2 separate regions of the Homo sapiens genome follow, and region 2 is linked to region 1. Evidence: fine-mapped expression QTL. Tissue or cell type: whole blood. Region 1 holds a variant in brackets; the other region holds the start of a gene. All regions are shown on one strand. Distances are from middle to middle.

Region 1 (10,147 bases):
AGTTGTTAAGCTGAGATTTGAATTCAAGCCTTCTGATGCCTCAAGATATATATTTTCAGCTACATCCATCTCTTTAACTTGTAGGACTTAGTCTTGGGAAGGGTTGTCTCAGGGTTGACGCAGGTGGTGGAGAGGGCTATACATGGCCCTGTGGCTCCAGAGGATGGACCCTTGAGCAGTGGGTGAGAATTACACAGAGATAAATGGAGGCTGGAGATCTGGAGCAGCTTCCAGCAAGTGTCTGACAATGAGAGGGAGTGAGTTCCCCATCGCTAGGGGTGTGAGATGACCATCTCTTCAAAAAACCCCTGCCTGGGGTGGCTGCAGAGAGCAACCTCTGAGTGTCCTTTGGCTCTGATAGCCTTAGCCACTGTCATTCTCTTGGTCAGCCCTGGACATCCCTGGAAAGGATGACTCAGCTGTCCGTTTTAAACAGGGTAGTTCAGAAGAATACATTCCTGGTTATTCAAGTTTCTAGGGAGTCCTTGGGAAAGGCTCGGTTGATGAGGAAATCGTTGGGGGGTGATTAACAACTCTTGGATCAGCTCCTTCCTCCTTTGCCAGCCTCACCCAGCAGCCTTTCACAGGGGCCTGTTTTCTTCTAAACACACAGAATGAAAGAATGTGACACATCAGGTTTTAATCTTGGGTCTCAGCCCAGAAAAAAATTTGAAACCTGAAACAAGTGAAACCCATTAATTTACAATTAAATTTCAAAGGGTTGTTCCCCCAAAGTGCCTACTTCCAACCAAATAATTTGAGCTCAGAGCCATAAATTATGTGATGTGTTTTGTCCCCAGCCTGCGAAGTGTGCTGGATTAGTAGCCCAGCCTGGGGCTTCCAGCTATCTCCTCCTTCAGACTGAAAGTCTTCTAAACTATGAATGGTACAAGTAATGATTCTCATTTGTACAGAAGTTGCAATTGACAGAGCACTTCCATGTTACTCACATTTGAGCCTCCAAAGACTCCATGTGGGATAAGGCATTACATAGATGAGGAACACAAGTCTTGGGGAGATGGAAACGTTGAGGGACTTGAGCAAGACACACGGTTTCTAAGGAGCAGATCCAGGACCTGAATCCAGATTTCTTGATTATCTTTTCAGAGAAGATAATTTAACTACTTTCATCAGTGCAGCCTCCTCAGAATAATTAAATCTTATGCAGGAGAAGAATTTAATTTTTATAACTGGAAACAAAAATGCTTCAATAGATCCTCTTAGGCTACAACCATTCCCAATCTCCCTCCATTACTCCTCCCCTGTATCCCAGCAGAAAACCCTTTTAGGGCTCCACTGTGGTTATAACAATGTGCATTCCTCTTCTCACAAGTGACGACAGTGTCACGTGGTGGCTGAGCGCACAGGGCCAAGTCCTGCCTCCTCTTCAGCTGTGGCCTTGGACAAGTTAGCTAACCAACCTGAAGCTCAACTTCATACTGCTGACCTTGAGGGGATGTGGTGATGACTAAATGACATAAAGTACTGGAGAGCTTAGCACAGTCTGCAGCATGTAAGTGCCCCATAAATGCAGATTGAACATAGCTGTACAAAACAAGGACTGTAGGTCAAACCCCAGGACTGCAAAGACTCCATTCATTCCAGCAGCTTTGACTGAACACGTGCTTTGTGCCAGACGCTTCCGTGTCATTACTCATTGACTCCTCACAACAATCCTATGAGGCAGGTGTTATTATTCCCATTATACACATGGGGAAATTGAGGCTTACTTGCCAGCTACTTTGCTTTCATCTGTGTCAGAGCTGGGATTTGAATTCAACTCTGTGTGACTTTTGTTCCAGTACTCTACTGTGCAGTATGCAGAGATTTGGAGAGAGTACATTATAGATTAGGAGTGGTGACAGGAACCCCTAAATTGGGGTGTCTAGGGACTGGACCTGAGCTGTGGCTCTCCCACACTTGCTCTGCAGCTTTAAGCCAGACACATCAGTTTTCTGGGTCTTGGTGGCTTCATCTGTAATCCAAAGAGTTTGGAAAGATCATCTCAAAGATCCTTTCCAGCTCTGGCCTGCTAAGAAGCTCCTCAGATTTCAGAAAAGACTCACGGATATGATGCTGGAACAGAGGAAGCATACCAGTGGCCCCTGAAATTTCAAATCAGTTTTGCCTTTTGAACTCTGAGTTTCTGCATGAATTCAGAATCTGCCAGAGGAAAACTCTCTAATTATCCTACAGGGATTAGCCCAGCTAGTAATTACCCATATTATTTTTAATTGCATTTTATAAGGTACCTTTCATCCAAGATCTCAAAGGGCTTCTCAAATATTCATTAGCTGAACCCCACCTCCTCCCTGTGTGGATATGAAAGACAGAGACTGATTTTAATGTCAGAAAGAAGATGTGGCAGGGAGAGAAAAAGGGACTGAGATCCTGGGAGTAATATTACCTCTGAGTTTAAAGGAGAGAAGAGCAGAAATATGCCAGAGAAATGCTCACCTTTGGAAGGAGTTCATGGGATATTTGGTCAAGAGCAGATGGGTCAGGAAATGTTCCTCCTTTTTAAAAAATCAACTTCTGCCAGGGATGGTGGCTCACACCTGTAATCTCAGCACTTTGGGAGGCTGAGGCAGGAGGAATACTTGAGCCCAAGAGTTCATGCAATCAACTTGAACTCCTGTTTTGTTTTGTTTTGTAGAGATGGGGTCTCACTATGTCCTAGGCAACATAGTGAGACCCCATCTCTACAAAACAAAACAAAAACAAAAACAAAAACAAGAAATTAGCCAGATGTGGTGGCATGTGCCTATAGTCCCAGTTATTTGAGAGGCTGAGGTGGAAGGATCACTTGAGTCCAGGAGTTGGAGGCTGCTGTGAGCCGTGATGGTGCCACTGCACTCCAGCCTGGGCAACAGAGTAAGACCCTGACAAAAACAAAACAAAACAAAAAACCAAAAAGAAACAAACAAAAAAAACCTTCTGTCTGTAAGTGCTTAAGAGAGGGTCATTCGGTTTATTGCAGTTCAATTCCATTGAATCATTGGCTTTATTTCACTTTAGACTTATTCATCATCAGCTGTCCTTTGAGGAGTCAGCAGCATTCAGACATGTGCTACATAATGTGAAGGATGTAAGTGAAGCAAGATTGCAGATTTGGGCACGTTGGTTTAAGCAGCAAAGGCCACAGGAACCTCCCAGAAGAGCCCTAATAGGCTTCCTTAAATGAATGGCTGAAGCCAAGGCCAAGATGTTCAGCATGTGGCCAATGGTTGCCACAATACTTCCCTGGCAGTAGGTAGAGAAAAAGTAAATCTGGGCACATATGCTAAGTCCAGGAACCCGACTGACAAATGACATCAAAAGATCATTTTGAGTAGCTCATTATGGGGCCACTCCTCTCCTTCACTCCCAACTCCCCTCCACCAAGGAGCTAGGGTACTCTTACTAAGTTCCCATCATTCTTGTTCCAATGAGTGGATAGAGGATGTCACTGTGGAGTCTGAGAAGCTTCACTCGGGTTGGATGAGGAGCCAGCAGTCTTCTCAGCTGGTCTGTGAGTTCCTGAAAGACAGGACTCTGCCTACCTACTCACCATTCTTTCCCCAGCACACTAGCTGGGTGCAGAAGGGTGGATGTTCAGAACATATTTGCTGGCTAAAGGAAGGGATCACGAAGCTACCACCCTATTTCTGGCCTTGCAACGTGGTCTGAAACAGCCAGAGGAGGATCCTTTCCTTCGTCAGCTTGGAGATGTCTAGATCCAGAGGACAGCCAGGGCCACACAGCTCCATTGACTTCAGAAGCCAAAGATGGAAGCCATTGCTAAACTAAGTCCCAATGACCCAGTGACTGAGGGCCCCAGGTGAGGTGGTGTGGAAGGCAAGGCAGGTGCTGTGAGGTAGCAAAGAGGAAGACTGTCCTGGATACTGGGTCCTTTAGCAGGAAGGTTGGGACCAGTGGGGTAGGACTTTCAACTATTTCACTGTTGGGGGCACTTAGGGCCCTAGTTCCCTTGTTGGTGCTCTTGGGATAAAATGGCCTAGAGGGATGTGGGTGACAGAAAGATGCGTCATGGTCTTGCCCCTGAAAAGCCAGTGGTTTTATTTTGGAGATTAGACTCACACAGAGAGCAGTTAGAGCACAATGCAAGAAGGATACTTGTCTCTGACTAAACTGGGAGATCCCTGTGTGGAGAGAGAGGTCTTATTCATTGCAGTATTTCTTGTTGGGCCTGACAAAGGCCTGGGCACTTTTTCTGCTCCAAATACACCTAATGGTTAGTTGTCAGGTTGCATGGCCTGAAAAGTTAAGTGGCATAAGTCAGAAAAGGGAGGAACCTGGAGGCCAAATGCTGGCGAAGGCTTGGAGAAGGAGGAAGAGCCACAGATGGGTGCTGAATAAGGGACAAGTGAAAAGCATAAGCCCCACTTTGTCAAAGAGCTTTCACATCACAAGAAATCTATGCAGTGAGGACAGCCATGGGAGGGGGCTGAGAGGTTCCAAGTGGCAAAGGAACTGCC[T/C]TGTAGTCACCCAGCAAGAGGACTTCCAAGATTTTTGCCTGCCCAGCATCCATTTCTTTCTCTTCTGGGAATGCCACCCTGTCTTCACTCTGAGTCCATGCATTTCACTGTACAAGACATCATCTCTGGACTTTGTGGGTGGGTCCAGGGCAGACCTGACCAGTTGGAGAACTGTACCCTCTTTGCCACAGGATTTGTTCAGGGATGAGCAAATGACTCAAGCTGGGCCAATGAGAACCCTCTCAAGAACTTTTTCTAGAACTCTTGGGGGAAAGACACTCGTTTGGAGGTTGCAAAGCTGGAATAATGTAAGGCTGGAGGTGCTGATGGTAAATCTGGCCACTGGATGGGGAAAGACTAGGTAAGGATGATGTTAACATGAAAGAAACCAGAGCTGCAAGACAAAGACTCATGATAATTTTTCAGATATATTAATCAATACATTTCTTTTTTATTTCCCTGTTCGCCACTTTAAGTTTCTGTCACTTGTAACTGAAAAAATCTTTGCTCATATGCTTAGCTGATAAATGATGTTGCAGACCAGATCCTGGGTCTCCTACTTCTTTGTCAAGCTCCCTCCTGATGATTTTACCCATTCATCATCCATCCATCCATCCATCCATCCATCTTTCATCCACTCATCCCTCCATCCATCCATCTTTCATCCACTCATCCCTCCATCCTAGTCATCCATCCATTTACTAAATTATCCTCCCACTTATCCATCCTTCCATTTATTCATTCATCATCCATGCATCCAACTCATATACATTTAATGTATATAGAAGTTGCTCAATGCACATTTTTGAATGAATTAATGAATAATTTGTCATGATTTATTTAATGGCAAAGGTACATCTACCTGCCTTTTAATCCTATGTGGAAATTGGTCGACAAAGGGTAAACCAAGTTATAAACTCAGAACTTGGAACTCCATCAGGAAATCAGTCTCCCAAGGCAATACTGAATTTCATCAATGTCATCAGCATACAGCCAGACATGAGCCTTTCTTTGCCAAACATGATTTGGTCATGCTGATGCTGCAGCCCAAACGGGAGGGTCTGGAATGTCACTGACAAACATGTGGGTTTTCCTCTTGGAGGCGATGCTCATACCGTGAGCTGTCTAGTGACATGAGTAAGAATTGCCAAGAAGGACTTACTACCTATTTTGCTCTTTGTACCTCAGTGGCCACTTTAGGCACAGAGCTGCCCAAGAACCACAGAGATGAGTGCCAACTCTTTCAGGATGACTCTGTAACACTTCAGTCAGAGCATGTAGAAATAAAGCAGTCACCTATTTCAAACTCCTGTGTTTCCAAGGAAAACTGCAACTCCCAGAGAAAAAGGGATATGACCAAGGGCACATAAAGAATTACAAGGAGAGACTAGATCTGAACTCCTGACTTCCAGCCTGGTGCTTTTCCTACTACACCACTCTCCATCCTTGGACCACATTCCCAAACAGGTGGAGTACATCTCAAAGGGCTCGTTTCCTCTTTGGAAATGTGGAAATGTGGTCCAGGGTAAGCTGCAGGCACTAGACTATATTTCCTTTTTTTTTTTTTTTTTTTTTTTTGAGGTGGAGTCTTGCTCTGTCGCCCCAGGCTGGAGTGCAGTGGCGCGACCTCAGCTCACTGCAAGCTCCGCCTCCCGGGTTCACGCCATTCTCCTGCCTCAGCCTCACAAGTAGCTGGGACTACAGGCGCCCGCCACCACGCCCGGCTAATTTTTTTTGTATTTTTAGTAGAGACGGGGTTTCACCGTGTTAGCTAGGATGGTCTTGATCTCCTGACCTCGTGATCCACCCGTCTTGGCCTCCCAAAGTGCTGGGATTACAGGCGTGAGCCGCCACCAGACTATATTTCAAAGATGTTCTTCACATTGCTGTCATCTGCTTGTGAACCACATGCCACAGTAAGGATGCATGAACATCACGGTCACAGGATTTGTAAGATGGGACCTCAAGAGCCACACTTCCCAACTTCTTTCTGCTGTTTGGATGTCCTCTACAGCACCCAGTGGTCTGCTTGTCAGATTTATAGGTGGCAGAGACAAGGGGGGAAAGAACTGTGCTCTTGGTCCCCTTTCTCTCCTGACTCCTCCAGGACATAAATCCATCAGTTGCCTCCTCTCTCCCTCTTAAACTTTCTGCCTTTTCCTCCTTCAATCTTTCCTCTTGGTTAACAAATATTTTGGGTCTCCTTCTCTTCTTTTTCACTTTATTTTATTTATTTAAATTTTCAATTCAGAGGTACACGTGCAGGTTTGTTACATATATACATTGCATGATGCTGAGGTTTGGGCCTCTAATGATCTCATTGCCCAAGTAGCAAACATAATACCTGATAGGTAGTTTTTCAATCCTTATTTCTCTTTCTCCCTTCCCCCTTTTGGTATCCCCAGTGTCTACTGTTTCCATATTTGTGCCTGTGTGTACCCAATGTTTAGCTCCCACTTATAAATGAGAACATGCATTATTTGGTTTTCTGTTTCTGTGATAATTCACTTAGGATAATGACCTCCAGCTGCATCCATGTTGCTGCAAAAGACATGATGTTATTCTTTTTTATGGGCTGTATAGTATTTCAGGTGTGTATGTACCAAATTTTCTTTATCCAATTCACCATTGATGGGCACCTGGGTTGATTCCATGTCTTTGCTATTGTGAAGAGTACTGTGATAAACATACAGGTCTCCTCTTAAAGAAAATAAATTGATAAACAATAATTCTTTTGATTTTGCCATGTGCCCAGTTACCTTCTTATCACTCTCATTTTTTCCAACACATTTTTTGAAATAGTCATTTCTGCCTGTTGTCCCTTCCTTATGATCTACCTGTTCCTAAACTTTTGGTATCTTCTTTTCTCTCAGGGGTCACTAATGACCTCCCCAGTGTGAAATCTTTTTGACATTTTTGGGTGTGTGTGTGAGACAAAGTCTCACTGTCGCCCATCTTGTGAGATCTATGTGTGATCTTGGCTCACTGCAACTTCAGCCTCCCATGTTCAAGCAATTCTCCTAACTCAGATTCCCAAGTAGTTAGGATTACAGGCGTGTGCCACCACGCCCAGCTATTTTTTATATTCTCAGTAGAAACAGGCTTTCACCATGTTGTCCTGGCTGGTCTCGAACTCCTGACCTCAAGTGATCCGCCCTCCTCGGCCTCCCAAAATGCTGGGATTACAGGTGTAAGCGACTGCGCGCAGCCCTTTTTGTCTCTTTTTAGCCTTAAATTTTCTTGTTGCCTTTGTATCATTTCAGATGTTGATCACCCAGTACTCAATCTCCCTTGATAGGTGGTTACCCCCATTCGCTTTCTTTGCCTTGGGCTTTGCTTCTGATTACAACTTTGTGTTCGCTTCCTTGGATCATTTGTTTTAAGTCTCTTCCAGAGACCCTGTCCATCCATTGATAGATTTGTCCATTCCATTCTTAATTGAGCATGAGGTACTGTGCCAGGAACTGGAGATTTAGAGTGAATCACACATCATTCTTGACCTCAGTGAGCTTACCTTCTATTGACAGAGACAGCTAAGTTCATCTCAACACCATGTGATGCTATATGCTGGACCAGTTACTTCATAGATTCAAAGAAATGCAGAAATGGGAGCTAAAAGGGACATGAAGATCTCTAATGCAGGTCTCAATTTTACAGAAGAGGAAATTGAGGCACAGAGAGAGGGCATCAGTCGCCTGTGGGCCTACAAAGAATTGGTGAGGAGGTAAGAAAGTTTCTTCAAATAAATTATTCAGAGAATGGCCAATGATTACTTTTCTAGTGAAATAAGACGGTATTGGGATACAAAAAACTATCTGGAGTTTGCTGTGAGTTACAAATACATTTCACTGAGTTCTTTCTGTAACCAAAGACCCACCATTGGACCCGTGTCTTTCTCCAAATACTCCGACAAGAGGTCATGTGGCAGAGATCCCAGAATTGGGCCTTTTTTTATCGAAAGGAAGAGAAACAATACTTACTCAACACGTAATCCGGGCAAGGAAATTAAGGCCCTAAAGTTAGGTGACTCACATCAATTTTAAAGCAAAACCAGGACTGAAACTCAGATTTCCTGTTCCTTGCCTCCTGTTCCTTTCGTGAGGTCAAGAGCCACAAGCTGACTGTGTGAGCTGGAATGCTGGGCTACCATCTGCCCAGGGAAGAGGCTGTGAGCCTACTGAGTTTGGCAGCCCCCTTGAAGAAACTATGTGTGCGTTTGGATAAGAACCTGCGCCAATCTTTACCCCTAGACAGAGCCAGTGTCATGGGCATGCAACCTGTGATGTTGCATGGGACCCCATGCTTAGAAGGACCCTGTGGTTGGCTTAATGTTGCCATCTTAAAATTCTTGGTGATTTGTAAAAAATGAGGTACTGCAAATTATGTAGCCATTTTTGCTCCCAGATTCTAGCTTTTATTATTGCCACTCAAAGCACTTCCCAGGTCTTACATCTGAGTAGTTCAATCCTCTCTGCCCATATCACTGTAGGAAGGGCTATTGGAAAGATCACCTGAAAGTGAGCTAATGCTAGGCCAGCCAGGTGCCTGTCTAGATGCCCTGGACTGCTTCCTGGAAGAGTTTTTGCCTCTCTATGTTACCGGAAAGGGGTCTCAATCCAGACCCCAAGAGAGGGTTCTTGGATCTTGCACAAGAAAAAATTTGAGGTGAATCCATAAAGTGAAAGCAAGTTTATTAAGAAAGTAAAGGAATAGACAATGGCTACTCCATAGGTAGAGTAGTGGCAGAGGCCACTCAGCTGCTTGTACTTATTGTTACTTCTTGATTATATGCTAAACAAGGGGTGGATTATTTATGAGTTTTCCAGGAAAGGGGTGGGCAATTCCCGGAACTGAGGGTTCCCCCCCTTTTTAGACCATAGGGTAACCTCCTGAAATTGCCATGGCATTTGTAAACTGTCATGGCACTGGTGGCAGTGTCTTTTAGCATGCTAATTAGCATATAATGAGCAGTGAGGACAACCAGAGGTCACTTTTATCGCCATCTTTGTTTTGGTGCGTTTTGGCTGGCTTCTTTACTTCATCCTGTTATATCAGCAAGGTCTTTATGAGCTGTATCCCGTGATGACCTGCTGTGTGATCCTGTGACAGTGAATGCCTTAACCTCCTGGAAATGCAGCCCAGTAGGTCTCAGCCTTATTTTACCCAGTCTCTATTCAAAATGGAGTCACTCTAGTTCAAACGTTTCTGACACCTAGACGTTATGAAACTCTGGATCATGGTGTGGAGTGTAGAATTCATCTATCTAGCTTCACCAGACCCAAAAACCAAGCCATCTATCACTTCACTCCTTTTCTTTGGTTCAAGAGCTCTTGGTGGCTCTCAGCCTATAGGACAGTCCAGGCTCCAAAGCTAGTGTTCCAATATGGTTTCAATCCACCTTTGCAGCATTTTCTCTCAATGCTCGCATATAGTCTCTTCTCTGACTACAGTGTCTTCTTTTCTTTTCCCAGGTCCATCTTAGACATTGTGACCTCTGCACAAGGAAAAAGCTTTCCTTTTCCATTCCGGCTCACCATCCCCATCTTTCTCACCAGCTGATATTCCTCCTGTCCTTCAAGGCCCTGCTGTGTTCTCATTTCCTCTGGAAAGGGCCTTCTGTGACCACCCCTTCTATATCCTCTCTCCCAACAAGACTGCACACTTATTGA
Region 2 (10,147 bases), 32 kb after region 1:
CAAAAGTGTTTTGCAAACTGTATAGAGACAGAAATGAGATTTTTAAATGCAAGTCAACATTTTTGAGCACTTAGCTTGTGTTAGGAACTGTGCTAGGTGCTAGAAATGCAAATAAAAATGAATGACATATGTTTGTTTACTCATTCAACAACTGAATATTGAGCAGCTCCCATGGGCCACATACCGTGCCATGCACTGGCAATGCATCTGTGTCTGAGACAGGCCCAGGTTCTGTGTTCACGGCTTATGGTATGCAGAGAAGATAAATGTTCTCAACCTGAATGCAGCAAAGTAATAATGTTCCACAGGCGCTGTGATAGTAGCATTTCAAAGTGCTGTGGGGCACCTAACAGGGCATCCTAACCTGGTCTAGGAGTCCAGGAAGACCTTCCTTGGGAAGTAATACTTAAATGTCTGCTGTGAGCACAGAGACTATGGGGAGATGGGTATATAAACCAATAAATACAAACTATGATAGCAGGATATAGAAGGTGGAGAAGGGAGTCTTGCCACATCTGTATCAGAGTCAAGGTAGATTTATTACCCAATTCTGAGTGTTGCTGTGACAATTTGGACATAGCCATAAAAAATTTCCATAGATGTTTAAATGTATCACTGCAAGAAGATGACTAAGACTCAAAATAGTAACTACTGAAAGTAGTAGGAATACTTCCTGCTTCACCTTCTCCCTCTCTACACCTCCCTTGCATACACACACTGGCACACACAGACACACACACACCTCACCATATAAATCTGGTTAATCTGGCAAGTAAAATATACAATGCACACCATGGGCTCCTAACCCAGATAATAATTGTGGTTCTTAAAATATGTCATGACTAGATCTTGGTGATCTGTATATAAAATGAGTTTTTAACTTTTCATTGTTGAAGCTTTTTCATGAGTAGAAGACAAGAGATTGAGCAAGACTCGTAGGTAATCCCTGTCCATCTCCCAATCCCTAGCCTGGAGCATCTGTGAGTTGGGTTACAGTTAGAAAGCTGAGGCTGCCCAAGCGCTGGCAAGAGAGCCATACAGGGTCAGAAGAGTTGTCCTAACCCTATATTCACTGCTACTTTGGAAAGTGCATTGTTCAAGTCATTTTCCCTCCCTGAGCCTCAGTTTCTCCATGGGTGAATGAAGTTGGGAAAGTCCTTTTGAGCTGGTGTTATGACTTTCTGAAGAGGACTCTCTACCCCACCTATCGCCCCAGGCTAAAGTGGGTTCCTGTATTATATTCTTGGCACTTTTCCTGTTTAGCATTTGCCATTGTCTCTATTTCTTTTTATCTATTTATTTATCTCTATCAGTATTTGCCTCCCTTGGACTGAATTCCAGAAGAGCAGAGGCTGTGGTGTCCACCACTTTACTCATATGTTTAGCCTGGACCTGGTGTATGTTCAGAGCTCAACAAACGTTCACTACCTAAAGTACAGCAAGCACTCACCCCCCCCAGCCCCTCTGGCTTGGTACCACAGAGCATCAGGATTTCCTACCTGGTGTTTGTGAGAAGCCCTCTGCTGACAGATGTGTGGGGTTTTTGGACATTCCAAAGGGTCATTTTGTTGCAGCCATCAGAATGATTACAACCATAAGTCCCTGGTTCAAAAACCATCCCTGTCCTTTCCACAGGTATGGAAGAAGCGAGGCCAGAATCAAAAGTTTAGTCAGAACAAAGTCAGCTGATGCTCATATTGTGACAAGGAGGATTAGCAAACCTTAATATGGGACTTTTTAAATCCAATAGTGGTTAAACTTTGTGAAATCAGCACATCTTAGAGTGATTTATGGAATTGAGCTGCCTTTAATGTCGTCTTATAAACCATTTTTTTTTCAACTGGGCTCATTTGTTTCTTCATTTATTTAAAAAACACGTCTTTTTAGCCTTTAGCATGTGCCAGACCTTGTGCAAAACATAATGCAGACAAATGGATGTCAACCGGCAGCCAAGTGGAGGCTGAGTGGAGGAAAGAGGTGGCCAAGTGGAGGAAAGAGGATCTACTTAAGAACTACAAGGCTGACTATAAAAAGTAAATATTTGTGACCCCATTTGATTAAAGTCTGTCTCTTACTGCTAGACAGTAGAGTAAGTCCCAGGAAGCCACAAAACAGTTTTCTCTGTCTTTCTCAATACCGAATCCCCAATGCTGAACAGTGCCTGGTCCATAGAAGGAACTCAATATATGTTTGTAGAATGAGAGAAATAGTGTCACCTAAAAGAGACTTAAAAGTGCTGGGGGGACTGGAAAGGTAAAGCTTAGTCTCAGCTGGGAAATGACATGATCAGAGCTGAGAGAACTGTAGAGTTACTGCTTCCAGCCTCTGTTCTCATCCCTATTTTACAAACAAATGAACTGTCATTAGAGAGCGAAAGTGATTTGCCCAGGGTCACACAGTGTAATGAGCTGAATTTTGTCCCCCTTAAATTCATATGTTGAAGTTGTAACCCCCAGTACCTCAGAATGTAACTTTATTTGGAAATAGAGTCTTTAAAGAGGTAATAGTGTTAAAATGGGTCATCAGGGTGGGCTCTTATCCAATATAACTGGTATCTTTATAAAAAGAGGAAGTTAAGATATGGCTACACAAAGAAGGAGGCTATGTGAAGACACAGGGAGAAGATGGCCATCTACAAGCCAAGGAGAGAGGCCTCAGAAAAAACCAACCCTGTCAACACCTTCATCTCAGGCTTTTAGTCTCCAGAACTGTGGAACAAATTTCTTTTGTTTAGGCCACTCAGTCTGTGGTACTTTCTTATGGCGGTGCTACCAAACTAATACACACAGAAAGTGATGGCAAATCTTGAATTAGAAGTTGAGCCTGCTGAATCTCTATCGTTGGCCCTTGGCATGACAGTACCCATCTGGTACAGTCAATTGCCCTCCCCAACACCCACTCCCAAGGATGACAATGGCAATGATGAGAATAGTTAACATATACATTGTGCCTAGTATGTACCAGACCTTCCTCTAAGTACTTTACATACATTAGCTCACTTAATTCTCTTGACAGCACTGTGAAGTAAGTACTGTACTGTTATTATCTCATTTTTACAGATGAGGAAACCGAAGCACAAGTGACTTCGTAACTTGCCCAAGGGCATGCAGATACTAAGTGCTGGAGCTGGGCTCCAGGAGCCTGCTTCTTCTACCATCATACTATTCTAGTGGGCTATGTCTACCAGCAAAGGTATTTTCTTTTTTTTTTTTTTATTATACTTTAAGTTCTAGGGTACATGTGCACAACGTGCAGGTTTGTTACATATGTATACATGTGCCATGTTGGTGCTGCACCCATTAACTCATCATTTACATTAGGTATATCTCCTAATGCTATCCCTCCCCCAGCCCCCCACCCCACAACAGGCCCCAGTGTATGATGTCCCCCTTCCTGTGTCCAAGTGTTCTCATTGTTCAATTCCCACCTATGAGTGAGAACATGCGATGTTTGGTTTTTTGTCCTTGCGATAGTTTGCTGAGAATGATGGTTTCCAGCTTCATCCATGTCCTTACAAAGGACATGAACTCATATTTTTTATGGCTGCATAGTATTCCATGGTGTATATGTGCCACATTTTCTTAATCCAGTCTATCCCAGCAAAGGTATTTTCAAAGTTGAGAGGTATTGGGGGCAGTTAGAGGCTATCACTGCGTTTGGTTTCATATAGCCATTAGACATGGATATGCTTAATCTGAAATAGCTCACTGGAAGCATAAAACATGAGCAGAGGGAAACCAGGAGCCTGACTAAGGAGTGGGGTGTTCGGATTTAGTTGCTCCAAAATCTTCCAATGTGTTAGGATATTAGTGCAGACGCATTGAAACAGATTTTAAGCCTCCCTCAAGTTCAGCATCTTCTAAATCAGACTTTGAAAATGAAAGAAACAAACTACTTCAGCCAAAATGCTTGCAGTAAGAAACCTGGGTTTGAATACTCTCTTTACTACTTACTTGCTGAGTGACTTGGGGTTTATGGAATCAGCCTGAACCTCAGTTTCTCCTCCCAGGAGATGAGGAAAATACCACCCATCTCGTGGATGAGACATAATGTATGAAAACACTAGCACAGTGCCAACACATAGTAAGTGATGAATAAATAAACCTTTTTTTTTTTTTTTTTTTTTTGAAACAGAGTCTCGCTCTGTCACCCAGGCTGGAGTGTAGTGGCGCGATCTCGGCTCACTGCAAGCTCCGCCTCCCGGGTTCACGCCATTCTCCTGTCTCAGCCTCCCTAGTAGCTGGGACTACAGGCGCCCACAACCACGCCCGGCTATTTTTTTTTTTTTTTTGTATTTTTAGTAGAAACGGGGTTTCACCGTGTTAGCCAGGATGGTCTCGATCTCCTGACCTCGTGATCCACCTGCCTCGGCCTCCCAAAGTGCTGGGATTACAGGTGTGAGCCACCACGCCCGGCCAGAAAGCTCTTATTAGTTAAGCAAAATGACCAAACCCAAACATTCCTTCCTGTATGAATCCTCACCCAATGCCTCATCCTAACTTGTCGGAATTAATTGCTTTTTCCTCTGGCTTTCGGTGGGAGTTGCTTGCACTTCTACTTGTCACTCCATTTGTCCGTGTATTAATGACACGCCTGTACATCCATCCATCCATCATTCATTAAAATTGTGCTGAGCATTTTCCATGTCCCAGTGCTGTGTTAGACACTGGGAGTTCAGAGATGGATCTGACATGGTTCCTATCCTCAAAGGGTTTGGGCTTTTGGGGGCAAGCCAGGGCTGACGTGCCCAAAGGACACAGACACTAAAGCAATAGTAATACATCTACGATTTTATTGTATCATAGCAATATTTTCCATGGAAAACCCAGCACTTTGTTGGATTTCTATTTATTTATTTTATGATTTAGTATTATTTTTATAAAATAAGGAAGTCATAATGTTTTCAGATCGTTTTCAAATTAGCTTCTAAAGGTCTTAATCTGGTTCCACTTGGCAACAGACACATCTAAGGAACCATTACAAAGAACTGTGTTAAGTGCTGGGCTAGAAAAACCCCAGTGTTTACTCGGGGCTGAAGTAGGAGAGCCCCACTGCCCCACTGGAACGCCCCAAGGGAAGGAGCCATCCCTAATGCTTGCTTCATAGACCTTCAAGCTGGACAGGGCTTAAATGCCAGCTCCTCCAGTGCCCTCCACAAAGGGTCGTGGAGGTCAGGGGGGAGGTGCACTTCAAGTGGGAGGCTCTCGCCCACTCCCCCTCTAGCCTGCGCCGTAGAACTCATTTTTTGTTTCATTTGAGGAAACAGAACCTCAGGCGGTAGAGGTGACTTGCCCAAGATCACGCAAATGGAGTGGAAAACATTTAAATAGCTAACATCTATTGATTCCTTTTTATATGTAACGCACGGGCTGAGGGGCTTTACATGCGTTTTCTCATTTAATCCTCCTGATAATTCCATGAAGTAGGTACCCTTATTTTCCTCATTTCACAGATGAGAAAATTGAGGTAAAATAAGAGACTTTCACAAGGTCATTTAGCAATTAAGTAGCCAAGTCCAGATTTGCTCTCAATAGATGGTGGTTGACGTTGGAATAACAGTCTGATCCTGACCCTGGACGCACATCTGGGGCCCGTGGCACCTGGGGCAGGGAGGGGCGCTCGGTCCTGGGCTGGGGCTGGGGGAGCGACCGGCACGGGCGGGCCGGGGGTGGAGCCTCTGGCGAGCTGTTCACAGCGGGCTTCCCAGGAGGTGAGAAAGTCCCGCCCCTAGCCGATGGAGGGCTGGGATTGGTTCTCCGGGACCGATTGACGGCTCAGGGCACGAGCGGGGACCGCAGCGGCGGAGGTGAGGGCGCCAGCAGGAAGTGGGAGAAGAGGCGACCCAAGGCGGGCTGGCGGGCTGGCGGCAGTCGCTACTTGCCTAGTAGCCTCAGCCGCTGTGGGCTCCTGGGGAGATGGAGGGGCCGGGGCTGGGCTCGCAGGTGAGTGCGGCCGGGCGGTGGCTGTCCTGGGGGCCGGGAGAGCGGCTGCAGCTGTGGAGGAAAGGATGGTGTGGGTGAGAGGCCGCTCGATGAGGGGGTTTCGGGAGCGGCGGGGCCTAGGTCTGGGAAGCGGGAGCCTGGAAACACCACGAACGATGCTGGAAATTGTCTCTGAGGCGACTGGGAAGAAAAGGCGAGGACTGAGGGGTGAGGGCCCGAGCCGGCCCCTCCAGCCTCCATCCCTGGCCAGGGCGCCCCCTGGGGCCGGTACCCGGAGCCCGGCGGGGACCTCTGTGGGCCTGGGGAGGGGACGATGGCCCTTCCCGGGAGAGGTGTCAGGTGACACACCTGATTCGGACCCGCCCGTCTTGACGTTGGCCCGGAGTCGGAGCGGTTCTGTTGATTTCTTTTTCAGCCCTGGCGTCTTAGCACCCGCCTTCACCCCACCCAGTCCAGTTTTCGCTCCTGTTTCCGCATCCTTGCTTACTCCTTGAAATAATTAAGGCTGCTTGTTTAGGATGGAGGAAAGGGGCGTGGAGAGGGGAGGTACACCACAGCGATCTGCAGAATCTCAAAGGACAATATTCCGTGGAGGAGGTGTTATATAAAAGCCAGACGGAGGTCCAAAGAAGCCAGGCGGGCCAGTCGGAGAAGTTACAGGAGGTAGATGTTGTCTCCAAGAAAACAAGATTTTTGTGCTTTTTGCTTATGGCCCTTTCCTAGTGCCTAGAGTACTGACTAGTATATTGTAGACGTTCACTTAATATTTATTGAATAAATGCAGAATTTCCAGGTTCAGCCAGTTTTAGTGAGTGCATAACCCATGTCAGATGCTTTCATATGCATTATTTTATTCCAGAATTGAAGCATCCTTAAGAAGATATTATCCCCATATACAGATGAGAACGAACACTAAAGCTGTCTTCAGCTGGAATCAGTTAGGCGGTAGATTCTCAGTTTGGGATGATTGGATTACCTGATCTCTAAAAACGTTTTTCCAGTCCCGAGAGTGTTCCTCATGCTTTCCCTTTCCCTTCTTTCAGCACGATCTTGTGTAGGTTTAAGTGAGGGACAAGATGTCTGGGGAAATGTCAAGGTGTTCTTATTGGTTATTCTTGAATTTTAACAGAAAAAAAATAGTTCTCAGGCAGACTGGATTTTACCAAAGGGTGTTGAATCTTCACATGGAAACAGCGCCTCATTCTTTTTCTCAGAGAGGCTCAAAGAAAAGTTGGTAGGAGTAACTATTATGTCTTAATTACTGCCACTCATTTACAGAAGGCTTCAAGTGCTTAAAGTTCACTCTCTCATGCTGAAGGGAAGATTAGCCTTGTCCCAGTTCCATGGCCTATAGAGAGGGAGAGAATGATTTGGTGGTTGAATTTAGTAGGGAAAGGTAGAGAGATCATTGTCGTTGTTAATAATAATTGCTCTTGTTCACTTTTTCAGTAATGTGAAGACCTCACCTATATATACTGCTTTGCAGTTTGCAAAATACTTCCCCATTTTTGATCCTCACTATAATCCTCTGAGGTGGGGAGAAATGATTATTCTGATTTTAGAAATGAGAACAGAGGCTCAGAAAACTGGAATCACTTGCTACAAGTCAAATAGCTGCTAAGTGATAGAGCCAAGACTTCAGTCGTTCATTCAGCAAATGTGTTTTGAATGTCTGCCAGGCACCGTTTTAGGTGCTGTGATAAATTAGTGAACAAAACAGACAAAAACATTACTGCTCTCATTGAATTTGGTTCTTTTGATTCCAAGATCGGTGCTGTTGGATTTTTGCCAGGATTTGCCTATACAATCAGGTCTGCAGTTTCCTTTCTGACCTCATCTTTTTTTTCTTTTTTCAGACAGAGTCTTGCTCTGTTGCCAGGCTGGAGTGCAGTGGCGCGATCTCGGCTCACTGCAATCTCCGCCTCCCGGGTTCATATGATTCCCCTGCCTCAGCCTGCCGAGTAGCTGGAACTATAGGTGCGGACCACCACACCCTGCTAATTTTTTGTATAGTAAGATGGGGTTTCACCATGTTGGCCAGGATGGTCTCGATCTCCTGACCTTGTGATCCGCCCGCCTCGGCCTCCCAAAATGCTGGCATTACAGGCGTGAGCCACCGCTCCCAGCCTGACCTCATCTTTTACTGTCTTGCTTGCCCGGTCATCCCCAGCCACACCAGCCTCAGAGTCTTTCATACTTACTTCTGGAATGCTCTTTCCTTGTGTGCCCACTTGGCTTATTCCCCCACCTCTTTAAAGTCTTGACACAAATGTCACCTCTGTGTGGCATTCTGTGACCCCCGTATTTAAAATTGCAAGCCTTTTCCATCATCAGCACTACCAGCAACACTCCCTGGCCTCCTTCCTTGCTTTAGATTTCTCCTCAGCATTTAACACCATTTAACGTACTTATTGGTCTTGTTTATTGTTTCTTTCTCCTCCACTGAATGTTAGTACTATAGGGACAGTGATTTTTGTCTGTTATGTTCACTGCTGTGTGCCTGGCATCTGGAACAATGCCTAGCACTGGTGAGTACTCTGTAAATACTTGTCAATGAATGAACTTGGAAACTAAACTCTGGTACTTCTGTTAATGAGAACTTTAATGACATGAGAACTTTTAATGAGTGTCACATATTTCTCTCTCACTCGCTCCTTCTCTCTCACTCTCTTTTTATTCGATAATCTGGCAGGATAATGCCTGTCATTGGAGTTTAAGTGTGGTTTTCTAAATCTTGATTTTGGCTTAAATTAATGCCCACTGTAACTTTAACAATTCTTATATACAATTTAGAAAAATAATCTCATTCATGACATCTCTGTGTGAGAAGTATTACATGATCCCTCAGAGCTTAAAGATGCCCTAGTTATTTATTGTGTAAGAAACCACCTCAAAACATAGTGGTATAAAACATGGCTTTGTCATGCTCATGGACTCTGTGTGTCAGGGACTTGGAGAGACTGCAGCAGGGTTGGTTTGTTTCTGTTCCACCATGTCTAGAGCCTCAGCTGCAAAGACTCATAAGCTGGAGATGAATTGAGAGCTGGGGCCAGTATCTATGAGTGTCTTCACTTACATCTGGCAGTTAACTTTCAGTAGAGACACCTACACGTGACCTGGGCCTCTGCACAGTATAGTGGCTGAGTTCCATTAGTGACCATCTAATGAAAGAGCCAGGAAGAAGAAGCTGCCAGTTTCTAGGGCCTGAGCCTGCAAACTGGCACAGCATCACTTCTGAAATATATTATTTGTGAGGTAGTCACAAAGCTCAGAGTCAAGAGGAAGGGACATAGACCTTTACCTCTTGATGGAGAAGTAGCAAATAATTTTGAGGCTATGTTGTAAAAATTACCACACATGTATTCATATGTCTGTTAGATAATTTTCATAATATCTTGTTCTGCTTTTCACTCTTCTGTGGAGGACAGTGAGCTAGCTACATATTTCTTTCTTGGTATCTCTCTTTTTTCCCTCTTTAAATTTTTTTTCCCTTTGTATCTTAATTAAAACAAAAACAACAAAAAAACCATTTTATTCTAGTATCTTGAGGTGGTTGTAGACTGGAATCCTAGGAAGACGAGAGGAAGTAAAATGGAATAGAATCATAGAATACTTGGAGCTGGAAGGCTTTTCAGTGAATTACCTAGTTGAGAGATTCTTAAACTGGCATATAGGATAAGCTTCAGGGCGTTAGTGAACATCTTGAAATTAGTGAACATCTTGAAAAGTTAGTTTACATGTGCAGTTGTGCATTTCTCTTAAGTAGAGAGGCCTTAATTTTGGTAACATTTTCAAAAAGGTCCATGACATTTGGAAGGTTTGAGAACCATTTATCTAGTCTAGCCCTTTAACTTTTCCCATGAATTCAAGACGCAAAAATAATAACTTACTTTCCAAAGGTTCATGGCAAGTTAGCAGAGCCCAGGTGTCAGGGCTCCTGATGCAGTGCATTTTCATTGCTAGTCAGGTGGTCCAGTCATGATACGATCTTGTTTGATTGTTTGCTGCCACTTGGAGTCCACCCATTCTTTAGGTCAAGGTCTGAGGAGTAGTCTGTATTTTACTCTGCTCTGAAAATGGGGAAGGGAGTATATCCCTAACTAGAATATAAGTTCCTTGAAAACCAAGGACCTTGTCTGTTGTTCATTGCCATGTTGCTGTGTCTACAATAGTGCCCAGCACGTAGTAGGCATTCAGTAAATGTC

What was found. PIP is the estimated chance that this variant, and not a neighbour inherited with it, causes the effect.
Region 2: ZDHHC13 starts here. The variant in region 1 is the best candidate, but not a certain one, in a credible set for the expression of ZDHHC13 in whole blood (INTERVAL, PIP 0.87).

Annotation. Positions count from the first base shown.
Region 1 is chr11:19,079,307-19,089,453 of GRCh38, forward strand. No RefSeq gene overlaps it. Among named protein-coding and RNA genes, the nearest start is that of MRGPRX2, 24 kb to the left of the region's middle. The variant T/C (reference allele first, on the strand shown) is at 4,479.
Region 2 is chr11:19,111,335-19,121,481 of GRCh38, forward strand. It overlaps ZDHHC13 (zDHHC palmitoyltransferase 13), which reads left to right and starts at 5,834. Exons shown (of 17, transcript NM_019028.3): 1 at 5,834-5,942. The coding sequence starts at 5,916. RefSeq lists silencers at 5,564-5,803, 5,854-5,933, 6,024-6,253.